4 linked regions of the Homo sapiens genome follow. The protein of the gene in region 3 interacts with the protein of the main gene of each other region in a pairwise test. Each region holds a gene or a part of one and is shown on either strand. Other genes may lie near its edges.

Region 1 (7,054 bases), on a different chromosome or scaffold from region 3:
CTTGGTACTCCGTATTTTTCACTTAACTCTTCCATGATACTTTCTTTTTCTTCATCATTTCTAGTGGCGATTAGACATGTTTGAATGGAGGGATCTAACGGAGAAAAATCACACCTCTAAAAGTCAGTGTATTAAAGATGTGAAGAGACAGAAGGCTTTGTAACAAACTGGTGATATAAGTGGGTAAGCTATGGTCATGAATACATTAAAATTGCCCTGAAACGCACTTACTGAGTTTTATTTCCTGAACAATTGGAAAAGATACATTCTTATTATAAATTATGAGTTACTGTCAAAATAATTCAAAGCATTGTTTTAATATAGTTTATCCTAAGACCATTAGAACAATTCTGAAAATTAATGGAGTTTATTTTGGTATGATTACCCTACAACAGTAATTCTTAACTGGAGTGATTTTGCCTCCCAGGAGACATTTGGTAACATGGAGACAATTTTTGGCTGTCACTATTTGGAAGGGGTACTATAGGTATCTTGCAGGTAGAAGTCAGGGATGCGGCCGGGCGCGGTGGCTCACGCCTGTAATCCAGCACTTTGGGAGGCCGAGGTGGGCGGATCACGAGGCCAGGAGATCAAGACCGTCCTGGCTAACACGGTGAAAAACCCATCTCTACTAAAAATACAAAAAATAAAATAAAATAAAATAAAATAAAATAAAATAAAATAATTAGCCGGGCGTGGTGGCAGGCACCTGTAGCTCCAGCTACTCAGGAGGCTGAGGCAGGAGAATGGCGTGAACCCAGGAGGCGGAGCTTGCAGTGAGCCGAGACAGCGCCACTGCACTCCAGCCTGGGCGACAGAGCGAGACTCCGTCTCAAAAAAAAAAAAAAAGGCAGGGATGCTACTAACATCCTACCATGCACAGGACAGGCTCCACAAACAAAGCAAAATCAATGAGAGTAACTTTTTACTCTCAAAAGTATTACTGTTTGGATGACAGAGTTGATGATCACTCTGCTGAAATGGAATAAATTTCTGGAAAGAGAAATAGTAAAAATAATTACGGTCAGAAAATGTGAGCCAACAATCTTGCACCACCATTTGTGTGATATAGACTAAGTTCATTTCTCTGTGCTTTGGCTCCTAACCAGCAGAATGGGCGTAAATACTAATATTATTTATTGGCATTGTTGTGAAAATCAAAGAAGATAATATGTGCATGAAAGAACTTTGACAATGATGAAGTGCCATGCAAATATCCAGCTATTAATAAGAGAAAACTATGAAAGGATGACATTTTAAGGAATGTGTAGGAAGTTTTTCATGAATAGAAATCTTTCTTCAAACCAATATATCCTTCACTCTAACTTTTGAATAAAGTATATATGTGTTAATATTTCATGCTTATTAAAGATTGGATTATATTTATAAAAAACTGAAATCAGGCCTACGAAACAGTTACCTTTGGAATGTCTGTTGAAGAATTTCAAGATTAAATACCTAGTCTCCTTAGCAAGCTGATCATGATCACTTTGCCTTCGCTTAGCAGCAACCCCAACTATATCGCCTCACTTTCTGGGGAACTTGTAATTGCCACTTCTCCTTCCTTCTTCTCCCTGTTCTCTTCTTATTTCTCCTCCTCCTGCTTCTTTGTCTTCTTCCTGTGGTGCTCTTTTCCATGTGAGGGACCCCTTTAGCCAAGTCCATCCATTCCTCCTACTAACCATCTATCCAATCATTCATCCAGTACATCCTCACTGAGCATTTGCCATGGAAGTGTTAGCATTTTGTTAGGTGCTAAGAAGATGAGTAAAAACATATATATTCCGTGCCCTAAAAAACTTATAGCTTAGAGGGAGAAGGGACAGATATCAATTACAAAATAATAAATATAAAAATACAATTGAAAAGAAGATACTTGCTAGAAAGTGAAGTAAAACACTCCAGCTAGCTTTGAGGGACACAAGTAGGTTTCACTAAAGTACTGAAATTTCATTTGAGATCTGAAGAATGATTAGCCAGGCAAAAGGGATTAAGTGGGGAAGTAGGGTGAGGTGGTGCAGAGCTTCATAGGGAAGAACTTTCTGAGCAGTCAAGATAGCATGTGCACAGGCCCTGTTGGGCGATAGAACACAAGTTGTTCAAAGAACTGAAAGAAGTGAATGTAGTTGTAGCTCTAAGCAAGGCTGATGGGGCTATGATGTGAGTCTGCAGGTGACAAAGAAACAAATGAGGTAGAAACTTGTAGCCCACAGCAAAGGTTTCATTCTTTTTTCTGAGAACAATGAGAAATCCCTGAAAGTTTTAAAAGACAGTGACATGATTAGATTTGCATTTTGAAAAGATCACTCTGGATGCAAAACAGTTGGGGATGAAAAGACATTTGAAATCCATTGCTCTCAGCACATGCTTGACGGGAATTGTTACAAGCATTTGAATGTTCTCTTCTTTGTTCTTATATCTCTCTCAAACATCTTCCTCTCTACTAAGACAATTCCATTACTTCCTTCAGGATCTAGTTAAGTATATTCACCATATTTACTTTAAAATTTACCATCCCTATTCATCATGTTCCCACTTTGAATTCTTTCTGCATTTGCAAGACACTTACAATGTGATACAATTAATTTAATTCTCTGCTTTATATATTCTTTTCCTAAAGCACACTTTGCTTCTTAAGGACAGGGGCCTGCATATGGGTTTCAGAACAAAAATGATTGCTCTAGATAAATTATTTTTCAGTGTTTGGTTCCTCCTACTATCCACAGCTGGCTTCTCAAGTTCATAAATTGTATCTTTTACAAGCATTGTAACAGTAAAATAATCCGAATATAAAGAAAGACATTGCAAATGTTTATTTATAGCATGTCTGTAATCAAGCCAATGTAATCAATAGATACATAAAATTGGCACTGTCTAGTCTTAGTCTCTAACCTCTGCATAACATTTTGTGTAAAAGGACACTTCGTATGTGACTACTCATAAAAATTGTCTCTATTAAGCATTTAAAATGTTTTTATCTCGCATATAATGTGTTTGAGGAAAAAAGTTCTAATGACTACACTTAGATTGAAAAATGCAATAAATATTTCCAATATTAACAAACTTAGAATTCAAACTCAATTAAATATTAAGAGGATATGTTAAATTTCACCTGCTTATATTTAAATTGTATTAAAATCAATTAAATAACCAAATATAGACGTAAAGTTTTATGAGGATTTTTACATTATAGGAATTGTGATTTAAAAAAATTCTGAATAATGAATAATTTCATAGATAGATTCTGACATTTTAGGAATCCCTAAGTAATATGAGTCAAAATGCAATCTTTTTTGTTTTTCCACAGAGGTTTTAGCAGTCTTCTATTATATATCAAAGACAGAAGCTAAGAATAAACATGGATACCCTCTATCATGGTGCGAAAGACGTGCCAAACAACTGGAAATGTATAAGAAAGTAAATTAAATTATGGCCAAGTTATCTATAGTCTTCATAAAACTTTAAGAACTGACATTAGAGTGTTTAATTTTTCCTGGTACTACTGATGTTTAATTTTTAATCTCTAAATCATATATAAATATTTTAAACATGCAGTAAATAAAAGATTGTTCCTTTTCAGAAAATGATGTACAAATATGCATTATTTGAGATCAAATAAGGTAATAAAGGTAAAGTACTAATGCAGTGCATGATCTAATCAATATTAATTTCCTTCTCACTCTTAAGAGAAAGGAGAATGCTTAGATAGGTCGTGGTACCTGACACTAATAATAACTTCATATAATAATAGCCTATTATTTCATCCATAAAAATGCACTTCATATTAAGAACTGGCCGGGGTTTGTTGGAGGGCAGATTAGAAAGAGTTTACTTGGGAATCAAAAAACTCAAGAAGCAAGTGATTAATATACTTGAACCTAAGTTTTGCTCAAATCATCAAAAACAAAGGTATAATACTTAAAGCTAGAAATGTATATACATCCTACAAACTGAGGGTCTTCTTCGGGACCTGATGGATGAACTAACTTCTATAGGGAACAATTGGAAGTCATGTCTTTGCCTGAGTTTCTAGCAACATAGTAAAAAACAAACAAACAAACAAAAAAACCGCTGGGTATATTCAAGCACTTGACCTGAAAAGCAAAGTTGTTAGATAAATTTTAATGTACTTGCTTTGTATGAAGTCATTCAGCTTGGACAGAGGTAGTGAAAGACGAGATTTGAACTAAAGAAATAAAGTCTAAGACTTGGTTTCAGGCACAAAGTGTGATTATAGATGATTAGGATATATGCTCTAAAGATTTACCTGAGGACAAAACTAAGAGAGGATCTAAGAGGAATGACTGAGAATGAGAAATGGTATCTTAGAAGAGGTACAATTTAACTTTGTGCCTCTCAAAGCAAAGCAATTTGGTGTCATCATTTTTTTCCTTGGGTTTGTGCATGTAAGGCACTACATTTTTAGTGTGGTATTTATCTTTGCCCATTGCATTCTTCTCAAAAAGACAGCAATCAACTGAGTAGTGATAGGAAACAGAACTCCAGAAAATTAGCTGTAGCTCATTAAAAAGTGAATCAGGCTTTTAATTGATCTTAAACTGATAATTAATTTTTCAAACAACAAAAATAATTAAATGCATTTCCTCAAGTATTTGTTAGTTTCATAACAATCAGGATACAGACAGTAAATAGAGCTTGCCCTGAAATCTGCTGGGATATGGCCCTGAATTAAGACTTTCAACTTAAAAAGGAAAACACAAATGTCAGAAAATTCCCATATCAAAGTAAGCAAGCAGAATGGAGACATTAAGGAAAACAAAAAGACAAGTGGAAAATATACCAATGTCTGTTGGAAAGCACTTCCTTTCTTTCCTTTCTTTAAAATATAGAAAGTTCGATGGGACCAATGTAAATAAAAACTATATTCCTATCTGATAGTGATTTGTTTGCAGTTAAATATCAGGCACTTACCCAAAACATCTTTTGCTTTTTTCCCTCAAGACTATTCCCTCTGACTTCTCCTACATTTTAATGAATTCATACCTTCCCAAATAGTTTTAATTGTGTTATATCATTTGATAATATTCACAATATTCTTAACACTCTCCTAGCTTGATTTCTCTATACTTTTAACTTGCTTCTTTTGTATGCTTCTTCATCTTTATATTTGTGGTCATGACACAGGTAAGATTATAAATTGAACTATGTAATCCAGATTCTGATAGGTGCTATGAAAAAAATTAACACACAGTAATAGAATAGACAGTGAAAGAAGGAGGAAGATGACTATTCTATTTTAGATAGGCTGGTCAGTAAAGGCCTCTCACTGGAGGTAAATTTTTAGCACAGCACACTCTAAAGAAAGGAGCAAATAATTAGCAAAGACCTGTTGTCTGAGCAGAGGGAATAGCAAATACAAAGCCTCTGAAGTAGGAACAATCTTGGAATGCTTGAGGCATTATCAAGGCAGCCAGCATTACTAGAGTGGTTCAAGAAGGGAGAGAGAATAAGGAGATAGAATTGAAGATGTGGCAGTATAGGGCATTGTAGGTATGGTATAGAATGTGAATCTTATTCTGTATGAGAAAGGCATTAGAGGTTTAAAAGCAGGTTAAGAACATAATCTGATCAATGTTTTTAAAAGACACTCTGGCAAGAGTAAAAAGAAGCGGACCAACTAGGGAGTTATTTCAGTGCCCCTGAGATACAACCATGGGCTGTATGAGATGGCCTTCAGCACACATTTAAAAGGAGATTGGGTTTGGACTATATTTGTAATATATTGACAAGCGAACTTGATGATGGGGGAAGTTAAGAATCAAAGTTTTTTTTTTTTTTTAAACTGGATAAATTGGGGGTTCCCTTTATTGTGATGAGGAAATTTGGGAGTGGAGAAGGTTGAGGGTATGGAAAATCATGGGTTTTGTTCTGGGCATATGAAGCTGAAATGCCTTTTGAGTATCCATGAGAAGATGCTGTACAATGAGTTTGATATATTAATCTAGACAGAACAAGAAACATAAATTGAGGAATCATTAATATATTAACCATATTTTTTTCCTAAGGTAGAAAAACATCTAAATAATTATCTAATTTTGATTTTTATCTACACATTAATTATAAAATATTTTTCCAAGTCTTTTTATTTCAGACTGCATTGTTTTCCTTTCTTTGAAAAAAACTATATTATTTCTTGAACATTAGACAGAAATCTGATTATTATGCATGATTATACAGGTATAATACACAAAATCCTTAACTAGATTTTTAAAATGTGAATTATATTCCTTTCCCCATTCTAAAAATTTACTTTCTTTCGCTATTTTCTACCCCTTCTCCTCCAAAACATAGGAAATGAGGAAAATGCATTAGGCTCAGATCAAATGCTATAAGTATGACAAGTGAAGTTATTTTTTGCATAGGATAGTGTTTCCTGGAAGACAGATGCTATCTCAAGTCAAATAAAGTTAAACCTGATGCATATTTATTATTTGCCTGGCTGTGTTAGGATGGGTGGAGGTAATAAGTATTGCAAAGTAGCCTTGATCTCAAATTTATAAATTTGTACAGAAAATAAGATACCTATATACAAAACAATATGAGGATGAAAAAATATAAATAATAAATATAAAATCACTCTAATTGGTTAAAGAAGAGGTAGAAACAACAGTGGTGTTGGGTTTTGTGAAATAAAACAATTTCCAGATATATGAACAATAACGTGAGATCCATGTCTGAGCATGACTTACCAAGTGGTTGGCCGGCGATGACTCTGGCATTTTCTCCAGCCACTGCAGCTCTTGCATGTCGCTCACTCATGTACTGTACAAATGCATAACCTTTGTGAACGGAACATCCAACTATTTTTCCATACTTTGAAAAAATGGCTTCAATGTCAACTTTCTTGACAATTGCCGTATTTAGATTGCCGATGAAAACACGGGAGTTGATGGACTTGGGGTCATTCTTATTGGTGACGTTGCTGGTCTGTGTTTTGCCAGTCATGATTGGCTCTCCTTGCTTTAATCCTTAAACAAACAAACAAACAAACAAAACAAATAATCAAAAGGTAAATCATTAGATCGAATGGGTA
Region 2 (7,054 bases), on a different chromosome or scaffold from region 3:
GCCGGGCGCAGTGGCTCATGCCTGTAATCCCAGCACTTTGGGAGGACAAGGTGGGCGGATCACAAGGTCAGGAGTTTGAGACCAGTCTGGCCAACATGGTGAAACCCCATCTCTACTAAAAATACAAAATTTAGCCGGGCATGGTGGCGTGCGCCTGTAGTCCCAGCTACTCAGGAGGCTGAGGCAGGAGAATCACATGAACCCAGGAGGCAGGGGTTGCAGTGAGCTGAGATCGCACCCCTGCACTCCTGCCTGGGCAACAAAGCAAGGCTCCATCTCAAAAAGCAAAACACGGCCGGGCACGGTGGCTCACGCCTGTAATCCCAGCACTTCGGGAGGCCAAGGCGGGTGGATCACGAGGTCAGGAGATCGAGACCATCCTGGCTAACATGGTGAAACCCCGTCTCTACTAAAAATACAAAACAAAAAAAATTAGCCGGGTGTGGTGGCGGGTGCCTGTAGTCCCAGCTACTCAGGAGGCTGAGGCAGGAGAATGGCATGAACCCAGGAGGCAGAGCCTGCAGTGAGCCAAGATCACGCCACTGCACTCTAGCCTGGGCAACAGAGTGAGACTCCATCTCAAAAAAAAACAAAAACAAAAAAACTAAGAAAAATTTCACTTACGAAAAAATTATGTTTAAAAAATAGAAATTCATCTGTTTCACCTAATAAACCAACCATCACTGTCTTCATATCAATTTTAAGTTCAAATAAACAATGCAAAAAATGGAACAGAATATTAGCATAACTTTTGAACATACAAAACATTATAAAGTTACAAACAAAAGAAAAATAATCTATATTGTAAATTAGTCACTTGAAAAACAGGACCTATGACTTCATCAAGCATTTCTCTCATCCTCTAGCCATCTACCAGTACTGGTAGCCACCACCACTAAACCACAAGAGGGCATAGGCAAATTATGTCAAACCTCCCCCTTCTGAATAGCTGATGAATCCTAAACTAAATTCTCCATCAGCCCTCAGGTCTTGCATGCCTCCCTCCCATCCCTCACTATGCCCACTGTCCCAGTGACCAGACGGAGAAAAATTCTCTTGCAGGGAAAGGCACCTGGCAACTGGGAGCAATATGCAAAGTAGCAAGAGTAATTACTCTCTTGGAGTAATGTGGGGAATAAGGGCTTGGAAACAGGTAGGAGACAATGCTGGTCAAGTGTTGTTCCCTGAAGATAGCTACTGATGAAACAGACGTTCACACTGTGAACTGAGGAAATCCACGTCAGCTACTGAAAACAAGCAACACACAGTCTTTCATTCATAAATATTGATACAGAATCACGCATCACCAAACATTGAGAAAACTAATATAGAAAAAAGGTCAAGATAAATAGAAAACTGACCATGGATAAGAGATAATTCAACAGATGAAAGAAATCTTTTTTAAAAATGTAACAAATATTATCAGATTAATAAACATCTGTAAAATACCATCATGCTATATAAAGAAAAGCAAAAATTAAGGACATTAGAAAAATTTAAAGATAAATTCTGAAGCAAAGACTCAGTGGCTAAAGCAAATAATAAAACTGACCCTGAAAGGCCAGTTTCGTGATCTCTAAGATAAAGGTAAGAGAATATCCCAGAATTGAGAACAAAAGTCAACCTGTAGATATATATTCAGAAGGCCAAATGTGTGTCTAACAAAAGTTCCAGAACACAGAGAAGTCAAAGAAGGAAAAAATAAAGAAGAAAATTTCCCTAAATTAAAGAAATACAGAATCTTTAGGATGAAAGGAACTCTCTAGAAGTATCCTGGTAAAATTTCCAAACTTTAAGAAAATACCAAAGCTTCCACAGAGGGAGATAGAAAACAAAACACAGTTATCTACAAAGTAACACAGGTATATTACAATCAGGCTTCTCATCAGTAAAACTAAACACTAGGAGAAATGGAATAATTCAAAGTTTTGAAGGAAAAAAAACTGGAATCTAAATTCTATACACAGCCAAACCAATCAAGTATGAATATATTTTTGACTATTCCAGAATTCAGAATGTTTACAGCTCATGCACTATTTATAAAAAAAAAATTACTCAAGAATTAGTAATTACTCAATTACTAATATAGCGAATTGAACAGAAACCCAAGAAAGACAGTAACATGAGATATGAGCAACATGGCAGCTGAAATCTGATTCAGGAAATCACAAAGGAAGCTACAGAGAAAAAGAATTCACTAGATAGTGATATATCTCTCTGGGTGGCAAAGTCTTAATAATACAGAATATTTTCTGTGTCCAAACATATTTGGTTATAGAATAACATTTACATAATTGTAGTATTATCAATTTTCTTTCCTGGTTTTCCAACTTTTAAGTCTCAAGTTTAGACAAAGTACTTATACCTGGATTGTATTAGAGGACAAACTATGAATGTGATAACAATGAAAAATAATATCACAAAAATTGCAAAGTAGTACAGCAAGAGAGGTAGAACAAGAGTAACAACAAGAAAGTCCTCAGCTTTCACTGCAGGGATGAACTGATACTGACTGAAGTTGAACAAACATGAAATGGAAGCTTTTTATTATTTCCTTAAAGCAAAAAAAAGGCAAGCAGACGAACAAGAGGAACAATATTATGAAGACATGAGATGTGAATGAGGAAGGGTGTAGGTAGGAGGTACAATAAGGACACAGAATTCCTTATCTTTCATAGCAGGGAATCAATGAACTGATAAACAAGAAAACTTGAAATACATTAAAAGTTAAAATAGTACTTCCTAGAAGAATTTCCAACAGATACTTTTTAACAGCAGTTACCTCTAAGGAATGAAACTGAGGATGAGAAAGGAGGATACTTTCTTACTTTGTAGCTTTTTTTAATGAGTTTTGTTGATTTTTTTTTTTTAACCTTATTCAGACATTACTGCTACAATTTTTGAAGGGGGAATATGTAGATGACACATTGCTAAGTAAAAAAAGCAAGCTGTAGAGCGTATATATAACAATGATGGACTGGGGAGAAGAGAACTTAATTTTTTATTATACTTCCTTTTTAAACAGCAAATATAGTCTTGGTTGCACTGTCTTCTGACACCACACCTACTGACCGTGGATGAATGATGGATACCCAAAAGAGATTTCTTGTGTAAAACACTTAGCAGGAGAAAGCCAATCTGAAAGCAGTAATAAATGCTTATAGCGTTTTTTTTTCTTAAGTTCAATTCTCAAATCTGGTAAGGGGAAATGATCCCATTCTATATGCTCAGCCTCCCTCTCATTTCAAATTATTTGTGAGATCACCAGTAAATATTTTAGAAAATAAGTAAATAGCAAGAAAAAAAGGAGACCTTAGAAGCATTCTACTGAGGCCCACCCACCCCCAGTATTTTCAAAAGCACTACAATTGTTTAAAATACCTCCAATCCCAGGCGAATAGCGGCTTCTGTAAAGCTTCGTCTCTCCCTCTCAAAATTCTTTTTCTGCTCTTTAAAAAGGGACCATTCTTCTTTGAGACGTTCCTTTTCTTCCAACAAATAACAGTCTCGTAATAGTGAAGTGGTATCATCATCATATGCAGTAGCGAGCTGCTGCTATTAAAATTTAAAACATAGTAAGTTCCTGAGGGACCTTGCGACACTCCAACGAGTTGAAATGAAAGCAAGGGAAGGCCAGTCAAACTTCAGGGCAGGAATAGAAATTATTAAGAATCAAAAAGTCAAATGAGAATTCTCATTTCCCGAAACCTACTACCCCAACTAGCAAAGTATGGACTATTTAAGGAGTGGTACACAATGTATCTGTTAGCAGGGAACACAGACTAGAAATCTGTCAAATACCAGGGCCTTATGAAATAAAGGAATACAAATCTGGTAAGGTTCAGCACAATTCTGGCTTTTCATGGAGAACAGCTTTAAAAGGTAATTCATATTCACCTGTAAAAGCTGTTGCTGAGTTTTAATCATTTCTTTACACTGCTGAATTTCTAACTCGAGTTTTTCAGTTTCTTGTTCATGGTCTTGTCGTGAGATTACATCTTCATCATTAAAACCTTCCAGGTGTACCTTTGAAACTAAGACAAAATCAGTAAGTTGACATAGGTCTTATAGCCACCACTTAGTTTACAGTGTTTTGCACATATCTTTAAAACAAGGGCTCTCAGAACTTTTATCTTTCTAGAATTTTATAGGTTTTCTAAAAAGTAGTTACGTCCTTTGACTTTTTAAAATTTCATAAGCTATAACAAAATTAAATTTATATTATTTTAACATTATAAAAAATGTTTAAGCAAAGCAACTACAGGAGTTCATGACGACAATTACACATTTGTGCAATTTTAAGACTAAATGATATGCTTACAAACAGAGCTCTATTGCCAACAATTTGTAATCCATATTTATTCATGATTATGTCCTAATTAAAAACAGACAAAATGGCCATATTCAGAGAAGAGAAAAATAAAATCATGTTTTTGTTGACACTGCTTCAAAGATCAATGAAGTGTCACAAATCTTGCTCTCAAATATTAAATTCAACAAATACGAAGTCCAAACATACTTGCTATTTGATAATAAACAGCATTGACTCAAATGAACAAAATCTCATGTAGATTCATTTTGGTGCTGTAATAATAATTTTGCTGATTGCTCTTTACTAATACTTAACACAATGGCACTGAGTTCATATTTTGACAATTTAAATTTTTCTTTAAATAGGCTTCATTTACTGAGCAGAAATCTTCATTTTCCTAGTTTAAAAGCATTCAAACTTTACCAAGCAGAAAATATTAAGAATATATTCATCAATGTAGAGCTATGTATAAGGATAATAGTTAAGTGAAAAAAGCACACTAAAGAAAAATATAGGTAATATTCAATTTTTAAAATTTAAAAAAAAGTAAGTATCTTTCAAATCCATAGAGGAAAGTATAGAAAAATATGCACCAAACTGTTAAGTGTTATATGTATGGAATAGAGACCAGGATATTCTACTTTATATACTTCCAAATTAATATTTTGCATTAAACATCTATTATTTTAAAAATAATTTTAAGTGAATTACTAGGAACATAGTAATCTGCAAGCATCTAGAAATAAGCAAAATGTTCCTATCTATACTACGATAAATATTTCTTGATTTTTGAGAGTCAGTAAAAGAGACTCAGTTTTCTCTTTTTGGGGGGGAACAGGTGGTGTTTGGTTACATGAATAAGATCTTTAGTGGTGATTTCTGAGATTTTGGTGCACCCATCACCCAAGCAGTGTACACTACACCCAATGTGTAGTCTTTTATCCCAACTCAGTTATCTTTATTTGATTGTATACTGCATCCAGAGCAGATGGATCCATGATGTCCTCTTTTCAAACATTCACTCTGAGACCAAAGTGTATTTTTCTCAGTGAGGTTCAAACCTCACATCTAAATGTATGTAAAATGTCGGCTGTGCACAGTGGCTCACACGTGTAATCCAGACACTCTGGGGAGGCCAAGGCAGGTGAATCACTTGAGGCCAGGAGTTCAAGATAAGCCTGGCCAACACAGCAAAACCCCATCTCTACTAAAAACACACCAAAAAATTAGCTGGCTATGATGTGCGCCTATAGTCCTAGCTGCTCAGCAGGCTGAGGCAGGAGAAATAACTTGAACCTGGGAGGCGGAGGTTACAGTGAGCCGAGATGGCACCACTACACTCTAGCCTGGGTGACCGAGCAAGGTTCTGTCTCAAAAAGTAAAATAAAATAAAATAAAATGAAAAAATAAATGTATGCAAAATCTTGCTTTCAAACCACCAAACTGAAGTATAGTACTTTAGCTCTGAGCCTATAATGCGGCTTTCTAAGTGACTAAAAATCAACACCTTACCAAATGTCACAACTCACTTTACATGCATAGAAGCAGTGGTTACCTTGGTTATCAAGCTTTTCTACATGACTTTTCAAAATTCTCCACTGTTTTCTGATGCTGTTTGTAAGCTGCTCTCTCACAGTTTCACAGGAAAGGTCCCACATACTCTCTCTGCTTAGTTCCCCGGCATCTTCTTCAACATCGGAAATAACCTACAAGCGGAGAGAGATGAAGAGGAAAGGCTAGTACCTTACAATGGCTTTAGATGCTCAGGCAAGTAGTCTTCAGTTTGATTACCAGAGGAAGCCACATCAAAATCATTTCTGTGCTGTGTCTTATGCATATATGGCCCAGTATTTAAATGTCTTGAGAAAAAAAATGAGACTCCTAAATTCAGCTCTCTCTAAACCTGAATTTGAATCCAAATACAGTTAATGACAAGAGTCATGAAGCTGTCTGAGAAGGAGATATCACTACCTGTCTAATGTGTTGGATGTTTTCACGTTATTTAACCCTCAGCTCATTACAATGTGGGAAAACCGAGGTTTAGAGAAGCAGCATTACAACTAAGAGGCAGAACTGATATTTGACATTAGATCAACTTGTTTCTAATCCTAGGCTGCTTAAAGAAATGCACTTGTGAAATAATCTCTGAAGTATTTAATAAAAGCAACTGTTAATTCTATTTTCCTCATATACTTTTTTATATAACGGGAGATACTTTTCTTTGTATTCTGCCAAACATGAAATCATAAAGAAGTAGCAAACTTTACTGATATATGATCACACAGAATCAAAGCAGGATAAAGAACATGGGGAAACAATACTAAAAGGGATATATGTCATAATAACCCACATCTACATAAAGTAGTTCTAATTTGTCATTAATATTCAGGAAGGCAGAGAGATATACTTCACTAATTTGAACAATAAAAATCTTGCTGGGGAAAAAAGAAAGATAAAAGATGAAAAGAAAGAAGGGCTGATTCGACTGCTCGCACATGGAGATCAGCAGGATGAGGGAGCAACTGAGTCTGAAGAACTCTATCAGTAGTTGAGGTCAGCAATGGGCTAGCAGAGGTCAGGGTCTCTGAGGCGGAGCAGACAGGGGAATGGCCCAGGATCCGGCTCATGGTGATTCTAGCCCCTGCCAATACTCAAAAGCTACTTGCCAGTAACTCTTCCAAGGAAGCACAGCTTCTCTTCTGAACATTTTAAAGCCTATTAGAATACTACCAATCTGTTAGA
Region 3 (7,325 bases):
CAGCCTCCGCCTGGACTCACTGCCCTTTCCCAAGCCACAGCCTCCCTTCCCACTCACAGCCCTCCTGCTCTTTCAGACTCAGCTACTGTTCCGCCACCACCCAGAAGCCCTTCTGGAAGAAACTCTGTCCCACTGGGTTGCACAGGCCAATGCCATACTGAGGCTCTCTCGGGTCTCCACTGTGCCAGATGCTGGGCGGCTGCACAGGTGGATCCTGGACTCCAAGAAGTTTAGTTTCATGGTGGAGACAGAAACCAAGCATAAAGTGTGTTAAGGGCTGAAGCAGAGGTGCTAGGGAGGCAAAACAGGCTGGAGGACAATTCTCTGGAGGCTTCCTGGAAGAGGCTACATCTGTGTGCATGTACAACAGTAACCTTCCAGGTAGAAGGGAGAAGAATCAGTGGCCATGTTAGGGGCAAAGGCCTTAAAAAGGACTAACCCAGGGTGGAGGAAGAGGGCCCACCAGCAGCCTCAAGTCACTGGGGTGTAGAGCATAAGGCGGGTCATGCTGGAGGCACTGCTCCTCGCTCCTCTCTCCTTTGCACCATTTCATCTTCTGTTTCCTACTCTGGTGGCCCTTCCACAAGCCACCCCTACCGCAATCTGGTGTCCCCTGAATTGGTCTCTACTGGCCAAGTGAGTGGGGGAGCCCCAGAGGCACCTATGGAGGTCACTGAAATATCCCACAGTAGCCCTGACTCAGGACACTAAGTCTAGCTGGGGAGCAAAGAAATTCATCCCTCTGTGCTGAGCTCTTATAGCACAATTTGAGAATTATTACACCCTTCAAAGTCCATTGGTACACACAGTCTACCTCAGAGCTGTAAGAAGGCAGGTTAGAGCCTTGATTGTACCTTCCCCAACAGCCAGCCTAGAAGCTAGCATGTGGCAGGTCCTCTTCAGAAGGGTGTAGAAAGAGGTCTGGAGAAGATGAAAACCTGAGCAGTAGCAGCAGAGATTAAGAGAAATGGGAAGGGGATGGGAGGTGAGGTGAAATGCCAGGTTTGATGATGCCAGCATTTGCATAAAGAATCCCCACACTCTAGGGCAGGGCACCGCATCCTGACTTGACTCATCCAGACCTGACCCATCCTGACTCATCCACCCTGCTTGCTCATCCCATCCTTTCCAGGAGAAAAGGTCTCTCTTTTAAAAAGGTCTTAACTGTAACCAACTTCCTCATATTGACAGTCACATCTTAGAACTGACAAATTCAGAACCTTAATCTGCCTCAGCCCAGCAATGGGAGAAAAAAGCCTAAGAAGCCCAATGCCCACCCTGCTAATAACTAATTTGGGAAAGGGGGCTGGCGGATAGTCCCCTCCTTTCTCTGTGAGGGGCTGAGGCTAGGAGTAGGGTGGGTGGCTTTCCTGATCCTACTGGCAAGGTTTTAAAGAAGCCAGAAATTAAGTTATCTGAGAAAAGGTCTCTGTAGCCTCCTATTTCAAGAGAGGAAAGTAGTCCTTTTCCAAACACCCTGACCTTGCTTAAGAGAAGAGAGAAAGAGACCTCCCCCTCATATTGTTCTGTATTATTTTATACTCAGTACCTGTTTTAAGAAGAAACAAGGAAGCAAAACCAAAGGCAGGCAGCCCGGCGCCACGCACCAGACCCAAAACCAGACCCAAAACCAGGCCTGGGCCTGCCTGACCTTAGCCTGATAGTTAAAATTAAACCCATGACCTAGCAACCGATGTTATCCATAGATTTCAGACATTGTATAGAAGGACACTGTGAAATCTCTTGTTCTGTTCTGTTCTGTTTCACTCTGACTACCGGTGCATGCAGTCCCTGTCACATACCCCCTAGATTGCTCAATCAATCATGGCCCTTTCTTGTAAAATCTTTAGTGTTGTGAGTCCTTAAAAGGGACAGAAACTGTGCACTCAACAAGCTCGGATTTTGAGATGCTAGTCTGCCGATGCTTCCAGCTGATTAAAAGCCAATTCCTTCACTACCTCTGTGGGGTTTTGTCCGCGGCTCCTCCTGCTACATGCTGACACGTCAAAACCAACAGTCATCAAGGACACACCTCTTTGGGGACCCAAATGTAGCTCAGTGAAGCTGGAGAGAAGTTCCGCTCAGATAAAACAACCCTTTCAACAAGGACAAACACAAGCCTTTCTCTAGCCTGGACCCAGCGCTCTGGGGGTCAGACACCCGGCCTTCAGGCAGGGAGGGGGTCTGGCCTAAAGAAAGGGTCCCAGCTGCAGAGTCAATGGAGCAAAGGCCCCAAAGGAACCAAGAAGTCAGAATCCTCGGTGGCATGAGAGCCACCAACCTGCTGGCTGATCAAGAGGGCAGAGGGCAGTTCTAGACCCTCCTCTGGCACTAAGTAGCTAGATGATCTGGGGCAAGTCACGTCTCTTCACCATCAACCGAGGGCTGTGAATTAGATAAGGGCTTCCCAAATGTAGTTAATTACCATATGACATCTGATGAAAGGCTGATTTTCAGGCCCACTCCCACACCGTCCTAATTGCTATTTTGGGGAAAGGGGCCTGAGAATCTAGATTTTTAAAAAGAGCGCGGACGACCCCTACCCTCAAGCCACAATTCTGATAATCGCCCAAACCTGAAAAAACCTGGCTCGATAAGGTCCCCTGTGCTGCTAAAAAGTCCACGGAACAACGACAACAACTAAAGTCTGCTATCCTGGCACGACCTCCCCGCCGGCTGGCGTTCTCCCAGGCGTGACGCGTGGGAGGCCTGATCTCACCGGGAAGGACTCGGGCGTTGGTCACTTGCTGGCCGCGGCAGCTGGGCCGAGTCCCAACGACCAGCGCCGCCCCCTCTGGCCCTGGACCCCCGAGCAGAGCGAGGGCTGGAGACAGGCGGCGCCCGGCCTGCTTTTCTGCGGGCCGGTAGGGCAGGGTCAGCCCAGTTCAGGCGTCCCCGCCGCAGGCCGGGGCGGAAACAACGCGCGGGGACCTGCGACCCGGGACACGCGGCCTCAGCCCGCCCGACCCCGCCGCCCCGGTGCAGGGTCCTGGATCTCACCTGAAGCCCCGCGTGTCTCTTCCGGTCTGCACGTGGCGTCCGGAAAGCCGGCAGCTCCCACATGCCCGGGCAAGCCCGGCTCCGACTGCCCGCCTATTGGCTCGCTGGACGGCAGCGCCCGCCCAAGACCTCTTCTGATTGGTCGAGCCTGCCTGGCAGCGGGGAGGCGGGCGAGAGCAGAAGGGGAGGGACTCCTGAAGAGGGCGTAACTCGTGCTGCGAGCCGGCCATACTGGCGGGAAATTTTAAAGAGAAGGGAAGGGAGACTGACCTCCTGTCGTCCCTGCCCGGTCCCATCAGTGTTCCCCGGCTCCAATCCACTCCTCTACCTGGGTCGGGATGTGGGCTCCTGTAAGCCTGGTACCACCAAAGGCCGAATGACTTACTGAGTACACCCACATCTGCAGATTGGGAACATCGGCCCTTACCTCCTCGGGTGTTCTGGGATTCAAGGAAATAATATACACAGTAGGCACTAAAGAGAGACTTTGAAAGTCAGGTTTCCTCCGTCAGCGCTGCTTTTTCATTTATTCTTTTGCAACACTTGACTCCTAAGTATTAAGTTCCTACGTGGGCTTGGCAGTGGGATGCACACAATAAACACATAAGCATCCTGAGTTGTTTATCTAACAGCAGGGAAACAGCAAGGTTAACAGAAAATTCAGTGCAACATGAGGCCGGGGCGCGGTGGCTCACGACTGTAATCCCAGCACTTTGGGAGGCCGAGGCAGGTGATCACCTGAAGTCAGGAGTTTGAGACCAGCCTGACCAACATGAAACCCCATCTCTCCAAAAATACAAAAATTAGCCGGGCGTTGACGGGAGCCTGTAATCCCAGCTACTCGGGAGGCTGAGGCAGGAGAATCGCTTGAGCCCAGAAGGCGGAGGTTGCAGTGAGCCGAGATCGCGCCATTGCACTCCATCCAGCCTGGGCACCAAGAGCAAAACTCCGTCTCAAAAAAAAAGAAAGAAAGAAAGAAAGAAAATTCAGTGTAACATGAGTAATAACAAGAACAATAATAAACAGTTCACACGTATTATGTGAGCACGAATGATGTGCCAGGCAAAATACTCAGTTAATTTGTACAATGACCTTACTATTATTTCAGTTTTACAGTTAAGGAAATTGACACTTAAATTAAGGAGAAACACCTAGAATCCAAAGATCCTTACCTAAGCAGTCTGACTTCTCTTAGTTCACATTTTGCAAGCAGAAGTGATTTGGAAACGTACCTGTGATGAGAAATAAGCTAGGAGCTCTTTCTGATGGGAGTACAAATTTGAGGGAAGCAGGACAAGGGATGAGGTCACAAGAGAGATCAATCCTTTTACCCAGGCCCCTGAAGGCTTTGGGGAGGCAGAGGGATTTAAGCCATAGATAGTTTACCAGTGAATCTGCATTTGAAAAAACTTGTTCTGGCTGCAGCATAGAGAGGAATGGATGAGGACTGGAGAAAGGAGTGGGGGAGTGTTTGTGGAAATTTGGAAGATCATGATGTCCAGAGTGGTGTGGAGGATAAAGAGCTCCCCACCTAAGTAGCATTTGAAATGACAGATTCAAATGCTACTTAGGAGGCAGCGTTGATCAGAGAGCAGAGGGGAAGGGGTTATAGGACAGCGGTCTTCAGGCATGGGGACTGTGGGAGGTAAATCTGGGGCAAGGAGAGTTTTTTTTGTTTTGTTTGTTTTTGTTTTTGAGATGGAGTCTCACTCTGTCACCCAGGCTGGAATGCAGTGGCACAATCTCGGCTCACTGCAACATGTGCCTCCCGGGTTCAAGTAATTTTCCTGCCTCAGCCTCAGGAACAGCTGGGATTACAGGCACGTGCCACCATGCCCAGCTAATTTTTGTATTTTTAGTAGAGATGGGGTTTCACCATGTTGGTCAGGCTGGTCTCGAACTCCCGACCTCGTGATCCACCCACCTTGGCCTCTCAAAGTGCTGGGATTACAGGCGTGAGCCACCACACCCAACCAAGGAGAGTTTTAAGAGAGTCAATATCCAGATCCTCTGCTTCCATGGTGCTGGGCCTCAGAATATGCCTGGGGTCTTTGGGGTTCAGCTTCCCTCTCCTCATGTGTAACCAGCTGTCTCCCACTTTTCAAAGGCAATTCACACTGCACCTGTTCTAAATCTTGCTCTGCTGCATTACCTTGGGAAATAAAAGTCTCCAGGAGAAACAATAGGGCAATTCTAAATAATGTATTAATTATTGTTGAGGACGGGGCAAGAAATCCTTCTACAAGTCAGGTGGTTTCTCATTCTTTGCTTTCACCAAGATCCAAGGAGGATCTAATCATGTTGTTAGGTCATTAAAAACATTTTCTTGAGACCAAGGCTGGAGGACTGCTTGAGGCCAGGAGTTTGAGACCAGCATGGGCAACATAGCAAGATCCTGTCTTCACAAAAATAAATAAATGTGGAGGTGTGTGCCTACAGTCCCAACTACTGGGGAGGCTGAAGTGGGAGGATCCCTTGAGTCCAGGAGTTAGAGGTTACAGTGAGCTATGATTGAGCCACTGCACTCCAGCCTGGGTGACAGAGCCAGACAGACCCTGTCTCCAGTAAACAAATAAATGAATAAATAAATAAATACATGAGTATAGATAATTATCAGGAATTTAAAAGAAGTGGGAGAATTGCCAGACTAAAACCCTTCCCATTTCTCTATGGTTTTAATGTAAACAATGTTTATCAGGCTTACAACTATAAAATCAAAACAACAGACTCACCTCTGTCTCATTCTTACAAAAAGTGATACTCATCTCTGGACTCACAAATTTATGGAAAAATAACTGGCTCAATCCATCTCCTTCAAAGATATATTTTCCATGACATTTTAATGAAGATTAATTAACTTGTATGTTTAAAGATTCTCTCATATAATGAAATGCTATGCATGTATTTTAATCATATGTACTACTAATAATTACAACAACATTTCAATCTAGAAGGAAAAAAAATTAACCCTTAGAACCTCATGGTCACAGAAAATTTTTTAGAGTTAACAAGTTCAAATTTATCTGCATAATTGTGTGACAGAAATGTACAATAGGGTGCTTCATAAAATATTACCAAGCATGAAAATATATTATGCTTGGATAAAACTCCGTAGCAGAAGCTGAAGAAGAAAAAAAGAATGTTGCATATTATGTCAAATAAAAAAACAGACCCAGATTTGATAAAGAGAGATTTTATTTAAAAGGATGATTTTGGGGTGGGGTGAGGGTGGTAAGACTCTGTAAACAGGGAGAACACTCAGGCCATAAATCTACAAACTCTCAAGGGGTAGGCAAAAAGGGATTTTCTTTTATAGGAAGGAGTAAACCAGTCTAGAAAGAACCTGGTGTAGGTAAGTGGGATGAACGAGAGTGACAGGGTGGGGCAGTAGATCAGAGATTGCTTTATCCTGAGGCCAGCCTGTTCTCAAGGGGGCTGTTACAGAGGGATTTCATGCTGGTTTAGGCTGAGGGTGGGCCAAAATTCAGAGGCCTTGGGGAAGGACAAAAGCTTAACCAAAGTTTCATTAATGAGCATTTTTTTCCAGCTGATCAATGGGCCAAGCATTTCAGCTAGTCACTTATGAGGCAAATGGGAATTGGGGCTATCTGTATCCGGTCTAGTAACAGGGTATAGTGGGGAATCGCCATAGAGGGGAATCCATGAGTTTTATCTCAGTCATTGCAGTGAGCCATTTCCAGAACCCGAGAGACGGGGTTGAGGTGGGGTTAGGGGGTAAGGGGTTAATCATTGCTGTTCTCTAGGAGCACAGTGCTTAGGTAAAACTCAACATTGTCATAAATAGTTTTTTCATGTACTTTAAAAATGAAGGCCGGGCGCTGTGGCTCACGCCTGTAATTCCAACACTTTGGGAGGCCAAGGCGGGTGAATCACCTGAGGTCTCAAGTTTGAGACCAGCCTGGCCAACATGGTGAAATCCTGTCTCTACTAAAACACAAAAATTACCTAGGTATGGTCGTGGGCACCTATAATCCCAGCTACTCAGGAGGCTGAGGCATGAGAATCTCCTGCACCCCGGAGATAGAGGTTGCAGCGAGCCAAGATTGCACCACTGCCCTCCAGCCTGGGCAACAGTGCAAGACTCTGTCTCAATAAATAAATAAAGAAGCTAGGCAAGGTGGCACATGCCTGTAGTCCCAGCTACTTTGGAGGCTGAGGTGGGAGGATCACTTGAGAAGGGCAGGAGTTTGAGACCACAGTGCACTATGATTGTGTTACCCTCCAGCCTGGGCAACATAGTGAGACCCCACCTCTACAAAAAATAAATAAATGAAAATGAATAATATTTGTATCAAATCATTATG
Region 4 (2,504 bases), on a different chromosome or scaffold from region 3:
AGTGCTAGGATTACAGGCATGAGCCACTGCACCCAGCCTCCCCCAAATATTTTCTATCTGTGGTTAGTTGACTCCACGGATGCAGAGCCTGAGGATACGGAGGGCGACTATACTTGTTCCTAAACCCTGTTCCAGGTCTGCTCTGGGGACTTCACCCTAAGACAGTGGGTGACTCTCTCCCATCCTATCTTTCACAGCCAGGCCACTGAGTCAGTCTCTGGGGTGAAAGGATCAGGGAAGCATGAGCTCAAATCCCAGCTCCACACTAGCCATGATCTGCTGGTGAGGGCATCACTTAACCTACTCTGGCCTGAGTTTCTCCATCCAACAGACACTTATGACATCACCCACCGCCCTCTAGGAGCTGCTGCTATGATTAAACGGCGTATTTAATAGGAGTCCTCGGCACATACTTCAATATTAGCATCCACCCTTTCTCTACAACTTCGCCCTGCCAAGTGCACACACACACTCCCTAGAGAGACAGCTGGAGGCTGGGCCAGGAGGGTATAGATCCTTTATTTCCTGCACCACACGCACACAGGCTGACAAGCAATAGGAGATTGAGAGGTGCTGTGTGAAGGGGGGCAGGTACCTGCAGGAGGCCTCAGTCCCAGCCCCCAGCTATTGAGGAACAAAGGTGTGGGAAAGGGCAGAACATGGAAGAGGAAGCCAGGGGCAGGGAGGGGGGGATCAAGACAGAGGGGAGAGGGGCTGGGCCACGGATGGGAGCCTGGACACCCCCAGGCCACTGGCAGAAGAGGGAGGGAGGGAGAGGAGACACACCACTGGGCAGAGGGGCCCTCACCCACCCACACACAGAGACACTTGTGGTTACAAACAGTAGGTAGGGACTGAGAAGAAAGGATGAAGAACAGGGAAGACAGCCAGGTCCCTCAAGTCAACAAGAACCAGGGTGGCTACCATTAGCATGGGCATCAAGGGGTGAGGGGCACATTGTTGGGAAGGCGCTCACAACTCCCTGCCGGTGGAAGCTGGGCCCTGTTCCCTGCTCAGGGCTGAGTCTGGTAGCCAGTGGGCCTCTCCCGGGCTTCTCCTGCCCCCTGGGCTGCCATGTGGCCCAGACCTGGCAGCCACAGCTTTTGCACCAGCTGCAGAGCGAGGGCCGGGGTTCCTACCGCCTGTCCCTGAAGACGTTGGAAAAGCCTCCAACATGTGGGAAAGGGCAGAACATGGAAGAGGAAGCCAGGGGCAGGGAGGGGTCCCCAAGCTCCAGCCCAGGTTCATGAACACAGAGGGTGGGCTGGTGACAGACACAGGGTCCCATTTCAGAGGATGGGAAGGAGGGTCTGCGGGTGTGGGGCTTGGCCAGGCAGCAGAAGGAGGGGCCTCAAGCTGTCTGTGGGGCCTCTGCAGGCTGCTGGGGAACAGCAAAGCCTGGAAGAGAAGCAGGTGGATGTGAACTGGGGCATTGATGACCACAGGCCTGGCCTGGGCGGTGGGCAGGGGTCTGATCAACTGTATCAGAAGGACACGGAAAGTCGCCATTGATAATTATGCAGGTTGCCCCCTGCATGCGCCATAAAGGTCATGGTTCAGTTTATAACCTGCACAAGCTTACATGACACGCCTGCTGAAGCCAGTGCTATTCCACCCGGCAGTGACCAAAGGGCCATGAGAATGGGGACAGGCTGGGACGGGTACCAGGACAGCACTAGAGGGGAGGGATGGGCCAGTGAAGGTGCTACAGCACAGGAGTAGAGAGGACGGGCTCAGATCTACCCCGGCTGTGTGGCCCCAAACAAGTGTCCTTAGCTCTCTGAGCCTCACCCTCCTCACCTAACCAATGGGGACACATCACCTGCCACGGAATGAGGCTGATGGGAGCTGATGCACGTGCAATGGCTGCTGTGCATGAGTGTCACAAGGTCATCTTTCATGTCCTGCGGCTCCTTAAAGAGGCAGGGCTCACATGGCCTGCACTCGGAAGGTGCAGCTCCCAGACTTTGGGGTTTCTGGCTGGGGAGAGGAGACCCTGTTCCACCCCACAACCCTGCAGGAGGCCCTAGCCCACCTTCTGACACCCAGGGGACTGTTCCAACTGTGGCCCTTGCTGGTGAAGGCCTTTGTCCCCATAGCCTGGGCAGTCCCAGAAGGCCTCTCTTCCTCCCAGGCCGTGGGAGGGTGGCTGGCCCTGTCCTCCAGCCTGGGTCAGCCCCCGGGCTGCTCCACCATCCCACCCACCGCCCCCCGTGTTTGTTTTGACTGCTGCTGCCACTGCTGCAGAGTTGGAGAGCCTGGGGGATAGAGGAGGCAGGGGTTGGGGGCAGGGGAAGCAAGCGGGCAGAGATGGGAAGCTGAGGCGCAGTGTGGGGGCACAGTCCCAGCCCTAACCCCCAGCCCAGCCCCCAGGAGAAAAGTGGATGGAGATCTGGAATCCTAAGCAAATGCCACATAAATGAGCACTGACACTACGGTTCCCACTGAAGGGGATCAGAGGTGTCTATGCAAATGATATGCAAAGTCCATGCAAATAAGCACAG

The links.
Region 1: the proteins of AEN (region 3) and RALYL interact in binary tests that used the Homo sapiens proteins (3 or more experiments, as listed by UniProt).
Region 2: the proteins of AEN (region 3) and SSX2IP interact in binary tests that used the Homo sapiens proteins (3 or more experiments, as listed by UniProt).
Region 4: the proteins of AEN (region 3) and HAP1 interact in binary tests that used the Homo sapiens proteins (3 or more experiments, as listed by UniProt).

Annotation. Positions count from the first base shown.
Region 1 is NC_000008.11:84,529,234-84,536,287, reverse strand, and holds part of RALYL (RNA-binding Raly-like protein), read right to left. Parts: intron 6,990-7,054; coding exon of another isoform or gene 6,967-6,989; coding exon 6,711-6,966; intron 1-6,710.
Region 2 is NC_000001.11:84,652,451-84,659,504, forward strand, and holds part of SSX2IP (afadin- and alpha-actinin-binding protein), read right to left. Parts: intron 6,019-7,054; coding exon 5,868-6,018; intron 4,035-5,867; coding exon 3,898-4,034; intron 3,556-3,897; coding exon 3,382-3,555; intron 3,139-3,381; coding exon of another isoform or gene 3,015-3,138; intron 1-3,014. UniProt on the Homo sapiens protein: Belongs to an adhesion system, which plays a role in the organization of homotypic, interneuronal and heterotypic cell-cell adherens junctions (AJs).
Region 3 is NC_000015.10:88,617,058-88,624,382, reverse strand, and holds the start of AEN (apoptosis-enhancing nuclease), read right to left. Parts: upstream 3,044-7,325; 5' UTR 3,001-3,043; exon of another isoform or gene 2,720-3,000; intron 1-2,719. UniProt on the Homo sapiens protein: Exonuclease with activity against single- and double-stranded DNA and RNA. Mediates p53-induced apoptosis.
Region 4 is NC_000017.11:41,722,140-41,724,643, forward strand, and holds the end of HAP1 (huntingtin-associated protein 1), read right to left. Parts: 3' UTR 501-2,504; downstream 1-500. UniProt on the Homo sapiens protein: Originally identified as neuronal protein that specifically associates with HTT/huntingtin and the binding is enhanced by an expanded polyglutamine repeat within HTT possibly affecting HAP1 interaction properties.